3 separate regions of the Homo sapiens genome follow, and regions 2 and 3 are each linked to region 1. Evidence: fine-mapped expression QTL. A gene starts in region 1. Each other region holds a variant in brackets. All regions are shown on one strand. Distances are from middle to middle.

Evidence for each region. PIP is the estimated chance that this variant, and not a neighbour inherited with it, causes the effect.
Region 2: its variant is fine-mapped to the expression of CCDC40 in subcutaneous fat (FUSION, PIP 0.95).
Region 3: its variant is fine-mapped to the expression of CCDC40 in tibial nerve (GTEx, PIP above 0.99).

The regions. Positions count from the first base shown.
Region 1 is chr17:80,034,949-80,039,115 of GRCh38, reverse strand. CCDC40 (coiled-coil domain 40 molecular ruler complex subunit) reads right to left here and starts at 2,474. Exons shown (of 20, transcript NM_017950.4): 1 at 2,425-2,474; 2 at 930-993. The coding sequence starts at 2,453. It overlaps TBC1D16 (TBC1 domain family member 16), which reads left to right and starts at 3,244. Exons shown (of 12, transcript NM_019020.4): 1 at 3,244-3,321. RefSeq lists enhancers at 1,672-1,966, 2,866-2,985 and a silencer at 3,176-3,245.
Region 2 is chr17:80,077,985-80,082,151 of GRCh38, reverse strand. It overlaps CCDC40 (coiled-coil domain 40 molecular ruler complex subunit), which reads right to left. Exons shown (of 20, transcript NM_017950.4): 11 at 363-606; 12 at 94-276. Among named protein-coding and RNA genes, the nearest start is that of MIR1268B, 19 kb to the left of the region's middle. The variant TG/G (reference allele first, on the strand shown) is at 2,384.
Region 3 is chr17:80,059,097-80,063,263 of GRCh38, reverse strand. The region is part of intron 9 of CCDC40 (coiled-coil domain 40 molecular ruler complex subunit); the gene reads right to left. It overlaps LOC124904074 (a long non-coding RNA gene), which reads left to right. Exons shown (of 2, transcript XR_007065931.1): 2 at 3,779-4,167. Among named protein-coding and RNA genes, the nearest start is that of CCDC40, 25 kb to the right of the region's middle. The variant G/A (reference allele first, on the strand shown) is at 2,197.

The sequences.
Region 1 (4,167 bases):
GGACCACAGGCGTGAGCCACCATGCCTGGCCCTCTCTGCTTTTCATAATCATTTTTGCATCCTTTGTTACAGGAAATGAGTTCCGAAAAACTCAGGGCAACCCAAAGTTGGACATCCTTTGCATCCCTGACTAATCACTGACACTGTAGAATGGGGTAGGAAGAAAATGAGTCTCTCTTCAACTGAATTGAGTTTGTTCTGGTGCAAGATAATGTCATCATACAATATACTTGACCAAGTCCTAATTCTCTTTATTTATTTATTTTTAATTTAATTTTATTTATCTATTTTTTGAGATGGAGTCTCGCTCTGTCGCCAGGCTGAGTGCAGTGGCACAATCTCGGCTCACTGCAACCTCCATCTCCCAGGTTCAAGCCATTCTCCTGCCTCAGCCTCCCGAGTAGCTGGGACTACAGGCGTGAACCACCATGCCTGGCAAATTTTTGTATTTTTAGTAGAGACAGGGTTTCACCATGTTGGCCAGGATAGTCTCGATCTTTTGACCTCGTGATCTGCCTGCCTCGGCCTCCCAAAGTGCTGGAATTACAGGCGTGAGTCACCGTGCCCGGCCTATTTATTTATTTTTGAGATAGAGTTTCACTGGTCACCCAGGCTGGAGTGCAATGGTGTGATCTTGGCTCACTGCAACCTCTGTCTCCCGAGTTCAAGCCACTGTCCTGCCTCAGCCTCCCGAGTAGCTGGGACTACATGTGCGCACCACCACGCCCGGCTAATTTTTATATTTTTAGTAGAGATGGGGTTTTACCATGTTGGCCAGGCTTGTCTCAAACTCCTAACCTCATGTGATCCACCTGCCTTGGCCTCCCAAAGTGTTGGGATTACAGGCGTGAGCCACAGTGCCCGTACTCTGATTCTCTTTAATTCCTAGTAAATATAAGCCCGGAATAACTGCCCATAGGGAATTTTACCATGTGGCTTTCATTATTCCCTTCCTTCTCTCCCTCAGAAGCCGATCCATCTTCCGGATGGGACCTGGTTTTAGAGAAACAATTGAACAGTTTCAAGCAACAGCTTTCTTTTTCTTGGTCCTTATCCCCTCCTGAATTCTGCACATCTGTTTATTTACTTGTTACTTCTCTGCCACCCCCAGGCTGTTGTCACGTCTTTGTCCTGTTTGTCAGGAACCATAGCACTATATCATGCCTGTCAGGTGGCGGAGATGCCACAAAAGCAAAGCTCCATGAATGAATGAAAAATATAATTATTAAAACATCGAAGGAACAGCAGGATTAGATCACCCCAGAAAAGTCACCTCAAATATAACTTGTGTCTGGGACAAAACTGGGGAAAAGAAATACAACGTAGAGAAAGTAGCGCGATCAGAGTAAGTGTTCTGGGGACTCTGAGTTTCTCCACGATTTACGTAGCACAGGAATATATATATATATATATATATATGTATATCTTTTTTAAAAAATTAAAGATTCAAGCTATTTTTATCTGTCAAAGGAATATAGATATGTTCAAAGAGACAGACAGTGACAGTTCCCTGTGATCTTCCCTTTCCTTCCCAAGATAATCATTGATAACATTTAGGACCACATTCTTTCAACATTTTTCTATGTTTTAAACACACACACACACCCTGAATTAGAGATCATAGTATACCTACCCTTTTACATTTATGCCTATCGTTTTATTAATAATACCTTTAGTCTTTCCATGTCAATACATACAGACCCACCTTTAAAAAAATGAAACAATACCGATGTGTCTAAGGTAAAAAGGCCAAACTCTTTCCAATCGTTTCTATCCTTTTAAACAGAGCCTAAGCGAGCAGAGGCCCGGTGGCAGGGATCTTCACTCAGCCGCCCTCCCTGTGCGCGCTCAGTGCTTCCACCCAGGCCCCAGGACGGTGACCGCGGACTATCGCGGGCCGCCTAACCGCAGGGACCCCTCCCATCGCGGGTCACCCCCAAGCCTGCGAGAGGGGATCTGTCCTTGCAGGAGGGAGGCGCGGGGCCGGGCTGGTCTCCGGCCACAGCGAGTGGCCCCGGAGCAAGGTCAGGGGCGGTATCCAACAGCCCCGCGCCCTGCAGAGCCCTCTACTCTTAGGAGGACTGCGCGCAGGGACCGCCACGCAGAGTGGTTGCCATGGTGACTGCAGAGTGAGCGGTCCCGGGTTTTAGAGGGAGTCGCGCGCTTGGAGTAGGGGAAAGAGGGAGGCCGAGAGAGGACAAAGGGACAGGAGGGGAGAAGTGAGAAGGGTTGGCGGGGGGGTGAGGGGCTGAACGCAGTGGACGGGAAAGGCCAGCAAAATGGCGAGAGAAGGGACACAGGCGAGAGGAAGGGGGAGTGGAGGCGAAGGGGCGAGGCAGGAGCCGACGCGGGGGCCACCTGGAGCGGTGAACGGAGAGCGCGGCCTGGCGACTCCAAGACCCGCTGCCCCTCGGCCCGGCTTACCGGCCCGCCGCGCCGCCCGGTTCCGCCATTTCCCGTTGCTAGGCGACGCTGTCAACATCCGGCCGGGCCGGGACCACGCGCGCTGCGAGGGCGGGGGCCGCCGGGGGCGGCGCGGCCTTTGTGCCATCTCCACGCACGCAGAGGCGCGCGCCGTCTCGACGTGTCGTCCCTTAGACTGTAATGATTAGAGCACGACCATGCTTTTCCTTTATCGCTCTCTGCGCCCGGGTCCCGCCTCGGCTGCGCTCAATTTCTGTAAAGCGACAGCGGCGTCAGCGTGTGCCCAGCGGGCGGCTCGAGGTCCCGAAGGGACCTGCCGGGCACCTGGGGACCCCGGACTGCTAAGCGCCCGGGAATGGCAGGCGGGCTGGGGGCACCGGGGGCCGGGGACCCCGCGCATGGCGAGCGCTTTTCCATCTCCTGCCCTAGGGGGCTCCGGTGCCCTTCTCCAGGGGTCCTACGGAGACTCCTTGCATGGACGCCCGGGGGGTCTTCCGGAGCGTATCTTCCCTTCCTAGTCCGAAATAGGAGAAATCTCCCTGCAGAGGGCGGCAGCGGAGGGCCAGCGCGCACGCGGAGCGTCCGAGGAGCCCTGCCTTTCCTTTGGGGACGCCAGGCTCGGGACGGGGCACAGTCCCCGAGGCCGGGACGCGGCGAGGCCTGAGGGAGGGCCAGCAGGGAACTAGAGGCTTGGGCCCAGGGCTGGGCCAGAAGGTGGGCGGGGAGACCGGCGGGGGCAGGCAGGGGCCGGGCCGGGGGCGGGCCCGGGGGCGGGCCGGGGGCCGGGCCTCCCCGCGCGTCCCCGCCCCGCCGCGCCTCACTGGCGGCGGCAGCGGCGGAGGCGACGGTGGCGGCTCTCGGAGCCGGCGCGAATCCGGCCCCCGCAGCGGGACCCGGGTGGGTATCGGGGCCCGGACGGGGCCGCGGGGGCGGGGTCCGAGGGGTCCACCGCGCAGCGAGCAGCGCCCCCTCGGCGGAGCTGGGGCGGGGGCGCGCGGGGCGCGTGGGGCGCGTGGGCCTGCAGCCGCGGGACCGGGGAGGGGCCGGGGTCCGGCCGCCGTCCTCGGGGTGCGGGGCGCCAGCAGGAGCGGGAGCGTTGTGGGAGGACCTGGATCACGGAGGGGCACCTGGGGACTTTTCCCCGCGGCGAGTGAGGGCGCCCGGGCCCGGAATGGGCCTAATTCGGGGAGACTGGTCCCCGCCTGTCTGGAGCGGTGGACCGGGGAACTTGCGGTCTTTGTCTGGCTGAATCGGCGGAGCAGACGGATGAGAACTTGTGGGGTGCCGGCGCGCGCCCACACAGCCTCCAAAGTGTGCGTCCCCCCAGCAGCGCGCGCTCAGCTTTCCCGGCCTGTCGGGCTTGGTGGTCTGGGCTGTTTAAGATCCGCGTGTCGGGATACTCACTTCCGTTCCGCCTGGGCTCCCTTGTTCTTTCCTTTGGGAAAAAAAAAAAAAGAAAAAGAAAGAAAGAACGAAAGGAAGGAAAGAAAAAAAGGAAAGGCAACTGAAGATTGCTAAACATAACCTAGGGGATCCTGCCGGAAGCCGCTGAATCCTGAAATCCTGTGATTCCCACACTCGGAAGCTGGTGTCGTATATTGGCCACAAAGTAGTTCAGATTTGATTCAGAAATAGGAAATGAATAGAAAAGACATAACAAAAGTTAGTCTCGCCTTATGGTAAAGTTTGTTTTACTGTCTGGGTCAAGTTCAAATGAGAAGCTGGGCTGATTGGCCAGCCTCT
Region 2 (4,167 bases), 43 kb before region 1:
TGACTCCGCCCTCTCCGCCTCCAGGACGGCTTGCCCTCATATGCCCAGGCTGCAGGGGGCTTCGCACAGCCCCTCCCTGGGGCAGGGGCCTACCATGTTGGTCTTCTCCTTCTGCAGCCTCAGGATGAGCTGGTTGAAGTATTTGGTGGTCTTGTTGGAGGTCATGTGCTCCTGCAGCTTCTCCCGGATGGCAGCATCCGTCTTCCTCCTGAGCTCCAGCTCGCCCTGGATGGCTTGGCGGATGGCCTGCAACTCCTCCGTGAGTATCATTTGTTCCTGGAGACAAGGAGCCACAGGGTGCACGTGCCTGAAGAGGCACCACCGTGCGCCAGGTGTGACCTGTGGGGCGGGCCCGGCCTCACCAGCTGGTCCTGGCTGAGGGCATCCTCTGTGTCCTGCAGGGTGAGCCTGTAGGTATTGAACTGGCTCTGCAGGGCCACCTGCTTGGTCAGGCACTGGGTGGTGAGCTTCTGCAGCAGTGTGGCTTCCGTCTCTGTCCGGTTCAGGATGCTCGCCAGCTTCTCGTTCTTTTCTTCCTCCTTCATGATGGATTTCTTATAGGCCTCAATCTCGCCGTCGGTGGATTTGGCTTGATGCTGGCATCCTCTGTAGAAATGCAGCGGGGAGAGCCAGTTACGTGTGAGACATCAGAGAGCCAGTGCACAGAGCTGCGCCCCACACGAGGGAGCTCACTAAGGCGAACTCAATGCACAGAGAAATAAATTAGGAAGCCAACTCTTATTTATTTATTTATTTATTTATTTTTTGAGACAGAGTCTCACTCTGTAACCCAGGCTGAAATACAGTGGTGCGATCTCGGTTCACTGCAACCTCCGCCTGCCGGGTTCAAGCGAGTCTCATGCCTCAACCTCTTGAGTGGCTGGGATTACAGGTGTGCGCCACCATGCCCGGCTAATTTTTAAACTCTATTTGTAGAGATGGGGTTTCACCGTGTTGCCCAGGCTGGTCTCCAACTCCTGAGCTCAAGCAATGTGCCTGCCTTGGCCTCCCAAAGTGCTGGGATTACAGGTGTGAGCCGCTGCACCCAGCAGGAAACCAACTCTTTTAATAGCAGCCAAATCTTTAAAAAATTTTTATGGATAGATTGGCACATATTTGAGAGGTACATGCGATATTTTGACACAAGCATACAGCATGTCATGATCAAATCAGGGGAACCGGCCATCTATCACCTCACACATGATCCTTCCTTCGTGTTGAGAACATTCCAAATCTTTTCCTCTAGCTATTCAGAAATATACACTAACTTACCGTGAACTGTAGTCACTGTGACATGCTATTGAACACTGGGCCTTGTTCCTTCTCCCTCACTGTATTTTTGCAGCCAATAGCCAAATCTTGACTATTATTTTCAAATAGATCAAGAGAACTATTATCTATTGAAAGCCCAAGTTGACAACTCTTTTGTACTGTGATTATGGGGAGAAGGAAAGTGACGCATGGGTCAGACGTTGGGCTAGGGGTTCTCATCTGCCCACCTTCCTTAACCATGACAATAATCCTAGGAAGGAAATAGTCCAGCTTTACAGATGTGGCCATTGAGACTCAGAGCATTTCAATCACTAGCCCAAGGTCTGCAGGAAACAGCGTGGCTGAGGGAACACCAGTGGGCCCACTTCAAATTCTATTGTCTTTCCCCTCGGCATGCTGCGATGAGATACCTGTAATTAACGTCAAGCTCTAAAACACAGATATCGGATAATCAGATCTAAAATACTGATTCAAATGAAATAATCAGATTCAAATCCTGTATTTGTTGGAGTGCAGAGGCACGATCTTGCCTCACTGCAACCTCTGCCTCCTGGGTTCAAGTCATTCTTACGCCTCAGCATGAGGATTTGAATTTTGTGTGTGTGAGGCATGTTTTCCTATTATTCTGAGATGTTCTGCGGTACTTTAAACATTCCTTTCATTCCTTTCTTTCTTTTTTTTTTTTTGAGACAGTCTCTCACTCTGTTACCCAGGCTAGAGTGCAATGGCATGATCTCAGCTCACTGCAGCCTCAAGCCACTCAAGTAGCTGGGATTACAGGTGTGTGCCACCATGCCCAGCTAATTTTTGTATTTTTGTAGAGATGGGGTTTCACCATGTTGGCCAGGCTGGTCTTGAACTCCTGACCTCAAGTGATCCACCTGCCTCGGCCTCCCAAAGTGTTGGAATTACAGGTGTGGGCCACTGCGCCTGGCCATCCAGTATTTTTTTTTTTGAGACAGAGTCTCGCTCTGCCACTCAGGCTGGAGTACAGTGGCGCGATCTCGGCTGACTGCAACCTCCTGGGTTCAAGCGATTCTCATGCCTCAGCTGCCTGAGTAGCTGGGACCACAGGCGTGTGCCACCATGCCTGCCTATTTTTTTTTTTTTT[TG/G]TATTTTTAGTAGAGACAGGGTTTCGCCCTGTTGGCCAGGCTGGTCTCGAACTCCTGACCTCAAGTGATCCACCTGCCTCAGCTTCCCAAAGTGATGGGATTACAGGCATGAGCCACCGTGCCTGGTGATCCAGTATCTATTTTTAATGTGTGTGGATATTTATTGATCCACTGATGAGATCAGAAAAAGCCAAAAAACAGGAAAGGGCCTCATTATGGATCGATGAGGATGATTAAATTATGGCACAGGCATCATTTAGAACACAGTGTGAAGAGAACTGCAAAGAACAACGGTGATTTCTATGTGTTCTGACATGGAATAACTCTAAGACACAGCACAAGAAACACCAAGCTGCAGAGCGGGACACACTAAGCGGCCGCGGGTGATTTTTAAGTGGAGAGATAAACACCCGAGAATAATGCATATGTATGAACGAAATCTATCTGGAAAGACCTTTATGAAACAGTAACAGGTTGCTTGGGAAAGAGAATTGAAAGACTGGGGAGAGATGTGAGAAAAATATGGAAGGTATTATTCTAGTCCAAGAAGAAAGTACTTTCTGACTATTTGAATAAAAACTTATTCAAAGGATAAGACACTATCAATAGAGAAAGGAAGCCTGGCCCACATGACAAAACCCCATCTCTACTAAAAATACAAAAAAAATTAGCCGGGCGTGGTGGTGTGTGGCTGTGTTCACAGCTACTTGGTACACTGAGGCATGAGAATCACTTGAACCCAGGAGGCGGATGTTGCAGTAAGCTGAGATTGTTCCGCTGCACTCCAGCCCAGGTGATAGAGCAAGACTCTGACTCAAAAAAAAAAAAAAAAAAAGATACTGATACTGGAGAGATTTGCCATGTCCATGAAGCAGAAGATTTAATATTATTAAGGCCTCAATTCTCTTCAAACTGATCTATGGATTCAATGTAATTTCAGTTACATCCCAGAAGGCATTTTTTCCCCAGAAATTGACAAGCAAGTTTTAAAATTTAAATGGAAACCTAAAGGACCTAGAGTAACCAAAATAATTTTGTAAAACAACATCAAAGACTCAGACTATCTGATTTCAAGATTTTCCATAAAGCTCTAGTTAGAAAGACAATGTGGTATTGGTGAAAGAATGACAAAAAGATCAACGGAACAGAATAGAGAGTCTGGAAACAGACACACACACACAATACATTGATCTTTGACAAAGGTGTCACAGGATTTCAATACGGAAAGGACAGTCTTTTCAACAAGTGGTGCTGGGACAACTAGAGAGAGACACACAAAACCTGAGCCTGGACCCCGCTCATACCACAACAAACGTGAACTTGAAATGGACCAGATGCCTAAAAGCGAGACCTGGAAAACTTTAGTGGAAAACTTGGGAGAAAATCTTCGTGACCCTTAGACATTTCTTTTTCTTTCCTTTTTTTTTTTTTTTTTTTGAGACAGAGTCTCGCTCTGTTGCCCAGGCTGGAGTGCAGTGGCGTGATCTTGGCTCCCTGCAAGCTCCGCCTCCCAGGTTCATGCCATTCTCCTGCCTCACCCTCCCAAGTAGCTGGGACTACAGGCGCCCGCCACCACGCCCGGCTAATTTTTTGTATTTTTAGTAGAGATGGGGTTTCACCGTGTTAGCCAGGATGGTCTCAATCTCCTGACCTCGTGATCCGCCCACCTTGGCCTCCCAAAGTGCTGGGATTAGAGGCATGAGCCACACTGTGCCCGGCCTGACCCTTAGAGATTTCTTAGAGAAGACATAAAAAGCATGAATCAGGAAAGAAAATATTTAAT
Region 3 (4,167 bases), 24 kb before region 1:
TGTGATTGTGTGTGTGTGCGAAATCAAATTCTATATATTGTTTCATAATCTCCTATTAATTTTTTTTTTTGAGACACTTTTACTCTCGTCACCCAGGCTGGAGCAAAATGGCACGATCTTGGCTCACTGCAATTTCCGCCTCCTGAGTTCAAGCAATTCTCCTGTCTCAGTCTCCCGAACAGCTGCGATTATAGGCACTCGCCACCACGCCTGGCTAATTTTTGAATTTTTAGTAGAGACGGGGTTTCACCATGTTGGCCAGGCTGGTCTCGAACTCCTGACCCTCAGGTGATCTGCCGACCTCGGTCTCACAAAGTGCTGGGATTACAGGTGTGAGCCACCATGCCCCGCCATATTAAAAATTAATGTATTGTGCCAGGTGCGGTGGCTCATGCCCGTAATCCCAGCACTTTGGGAGGCTGAGGCGGGGGGATTACTTGAGGCCAGGAGTTCCCAACCAGTCTGGGCAACAAAAAGAAACACCGTCTCTACAAAAAGAATAATCATAATAAAAAAATTAGCACGGTGTGGTGGCATGTGCTTATAGTCCTACCTACTTGAGAGGCTGAGGTGGGAGGATTGCTTGGACCCAGAAGTTTGAGGCTACAGTGAGCCATGAGGGCCCCAGTGCACTCCAGCCTGGGGGACAGAGTGAGACTTAGTCTCTACCATCATTCTCAGCAAACTATTGCAAGGACAAAAACCCAAACACCGCATGTTCTCACTCATAGGTGGGAATTGAACAATGAGAACACATGGACACAGGAAGGGGAACGTCACACAACGGGGCCTGTTGTGGGGTGGGGGGAGGGGGGAGAGATAGCATTAGGAGATATACCTAATGCTAAATGACGAGTTAATGGGTGCAGCACACCAGCATGGCACATGTATACATATGTAACAAACCTGCACATCGTGCACGTGTACCCTAAAACTTAAAGTATAATTTAAAAAAAATTAAAATAAGAAATTAATATCGAGACAGGTTTCCATGTCAGTAGAGCTCTTTTTGGTGTAGTGTATTCTGATGCACAGGTGTATGAAAATGGGTTTCACTAATGTCCTCTTCTTGGGGTCTTTCTTTCTGATGACACAACACGGTGATGAGCGTCATCTCCCCCATGAGTCTCTATTCACTGTATTTATTTCTTTAGAGACGGGGGTTTCACTCTGTCACCCAGGCTGGAGTGCAGTGGTGCAATCATAGCTCACTGCAGCCCTGACTTCCTGGGCACAAGTGCTCCTCCTGCTTCAGCCTCCTGAGTAGCTGGGACTACAGGTGCACCCCACCAAGCCTGGCTTTATCATTTTTAACATACAAAAATGTTATCTGCATAGGTCTTTGCTAGGTTCCTTGGAATGGAGTCTAAGCACTAACAGGGTGCGGGGTTAGGGTTAGGGTTAGGGAGGGAGTGGCTGCATATGATCATATCGCCCTGGATGAAGATCTTGATAAAGATAAAGGCCAATCTGTATTTTCATGGCCGACAGCAGGGAGGGCTCATCTCTCCTTATCTTTGCCAACTCTGTAGGGGACTCCCTGTCCTTTGGTTACTTGTGACTTCGCTCGATGAACAGGGGCCCTGCTGTTGCCCCCGCACTGTTCTGGGTACTGGAAATGAGAAATGAAGGAAGTGCGGGCGGCCCCCTTCCCTGGGGAAGTTGCATCGAGGGGAGGGCGGGAGGTGCAAAAGGAAGCATCTACCAAGTAGCCCACCTGCCTCCAGGGTGTGGAAGCACACAGGGCGAGTCTCCTTGGCTTTCAGCCTCTCTTCACAACCCCGGATTTACTAATGGCTGCGAGTTGTCTTCTCCTGCCTGTCTCCCCGCCTTCATCTGGTTTGTGGCGTCCTTAATCTACAAAGGTTTTATTGAGGGTGTGATTGTCCTCCTAGTCTTTTGTTTTGTTTTGTTTTTTGAGATGGATTCTGGCTCTGTCGCCCAGGCTGAAATGCAATGGCATGATCTCGGCTCACTGCAACTTCTGCCTCCTGGGTTCAAGCGATTCTCCTGCCTCAGCCTCCCAAGTAGCTGGCATTACAGGCGTGTACCACCACGCCCAGCTAATTTTTGTATTTTCAGTAGAGATGGGGTTTTGCCATGCGGGCCAGGCTGGTCTCGAACTCCTGACCTCAGGTGATCCAGCGGCCTCGGCCTCCCAAAGTGCTGGGATTACAGGCGTGAGCCACCTTACCC[G/A]GCCCCTCCTAGTCTTTTCCTTTAAGGTTCCTGCTTTTGGTGTTATACTTTGAAAGGCCTCCCCAGCCCAGGATTATATAAATATTTTCATTTGTTTTCGTCTGGCACATTTTCCCCCATTTAAATACTTGATTCCATCTGGAATTTATTTTAGTGTCTGGTATGAGGAAAAGATTTAATTTTTTCCCAAATGATTAACCAAATGTCCCGACATCATTGGATGCATAATTCATTAGCTCTCTGGTAATTTATAATCTACTAGGTTTTTATATAAACTCTGGCTTGCTTTGGGGCTCTCTCATAGGCTTCAATGTCTTGCCTGTCTATCTTGTGACACATTATTTTAGCCTCTAGAACTTTACGGTTTTGTTTTATTTTAGACAGGGTCTTGCTCCGTAGCCCAGGCTGGAGTGCAGTGGTATGATCATATTTCATTGGATCTTTCATAGTTCAAGGATCTTTCATGATCCTTCCTTTTCAAAATTTTCTTGGGTATTCTTGAGCATTTAGTCTTCTAAGTGAACTTTAAAATCAATTCGTTGAGAATAAAGTGTTGTTGTTCTTTTTTTTTTTTTGACCTCCCGGGCTTAAGTGATCCTCCTGCCTCAGCCTCCTGAGTAGCTGGGACCACAGGTGCACACCACCATGGTGGGCTAATGTTTTATTTTTTTTTAATTATTATTTTTTTGTGGAGACAGGGTCTCACCATGTTGCCCAGTCTGGTCTTGAACTTCTGGGCTCAAGCCATCCTCTTGCCTCAGCCTCCCCAAGTGCTGGGATTACAGGTGTGCACCACCTTGCCTGGCCAGAGCTTTACTGTATACTTTAATATTTGGTGCGGCGATGCTAGGGTGATCTGCCATCCTGCTGTGTCCAGGACCCCCTGGGCTTAGCATGGAAAGTCCCTTGTCTTGGGGACCCCTCAGTCCTGAGCAGACTGGGATGGCTGCTTGCCCCGTTTGAATCTTCTCTTCCAAAACCATTCTTGGCTAGCCTTCCTAATTTATTTTTCAGATAAAACTCCAGAATTGTTTTGTTAACTAAGGGATTGTTTGTTCCTGAGATTCTGATTGGGACGTGCTCTACTTTAATTGCATTTGTAGCTGGAGAGACCAGTGCTGAGTAACGCCCAGCCCCGGGCCCTCCCTTTACCCTGGGAGCCCAGCGTGCTCATCCGTTCCTTCAAGTCCTCTTCCTTCTTTTTCATTGGCTGGGCACGGTGGCTCATGACTGTAATCCCAGGACTTTGGGAGGCCGAGGTGGGTGGATCACCTGAGGTCAGGAGTTTGAGACCAACCTGGCCAACATGGTGAAACCCTGTTTTTACTAAAAATACAAAAATTAGCTGGGCATGGAGGTGGGCGCCTGTAGTCCCAGCCACTCTGGAGGCTGAGGCAGGAGAATTGCTTGAATCTGGGAGGCGGAGGTTGCAGTGAGCTGAGATTGTGCCACTGCACTCCAGCCTGGGCGACAGAGCGAGACTCTGTCTCAAAAAAAAAAAAAGTTAATTGTTTCCTCCGTGTCATTCCCGCACCCGTGAATGAAGATGGTGACTCATAGTTTTTTTTTTTTTTTTTTTAAGTTGCAGTAACTTTGGTTTCTGGTGCTACCACTACAGACCTGAATCTGGGGCCAAGAGGGAGCAGCTTTCACCCCCTTCGTTCCCTCCACTCCCTACTCCACGAGGTGCAGAGATGTAGGAGCTACCCGGAAGGCCGGCTGCCCACGGGGGTGAGAATTGTTAGAAAGACTTCAGTCCTCCCCGGAAGAGGTCCCTGCAGGCTAAGGAACTTGCTGAGCATCCCCGCAGCAAGCTGGCCTTGGCGGTCATGAAGCGACTAGAGTACCTGAACCCTGCGAGGCCTTCTGTCACCCACTAGCCAGGGAAGGAATAGGAATCCGGGCTGTCCACCTGTCAGTATCTACTGTGGCCCCACCATGGGGAGGGCCCGATGTTTGCAGATGTAAGCT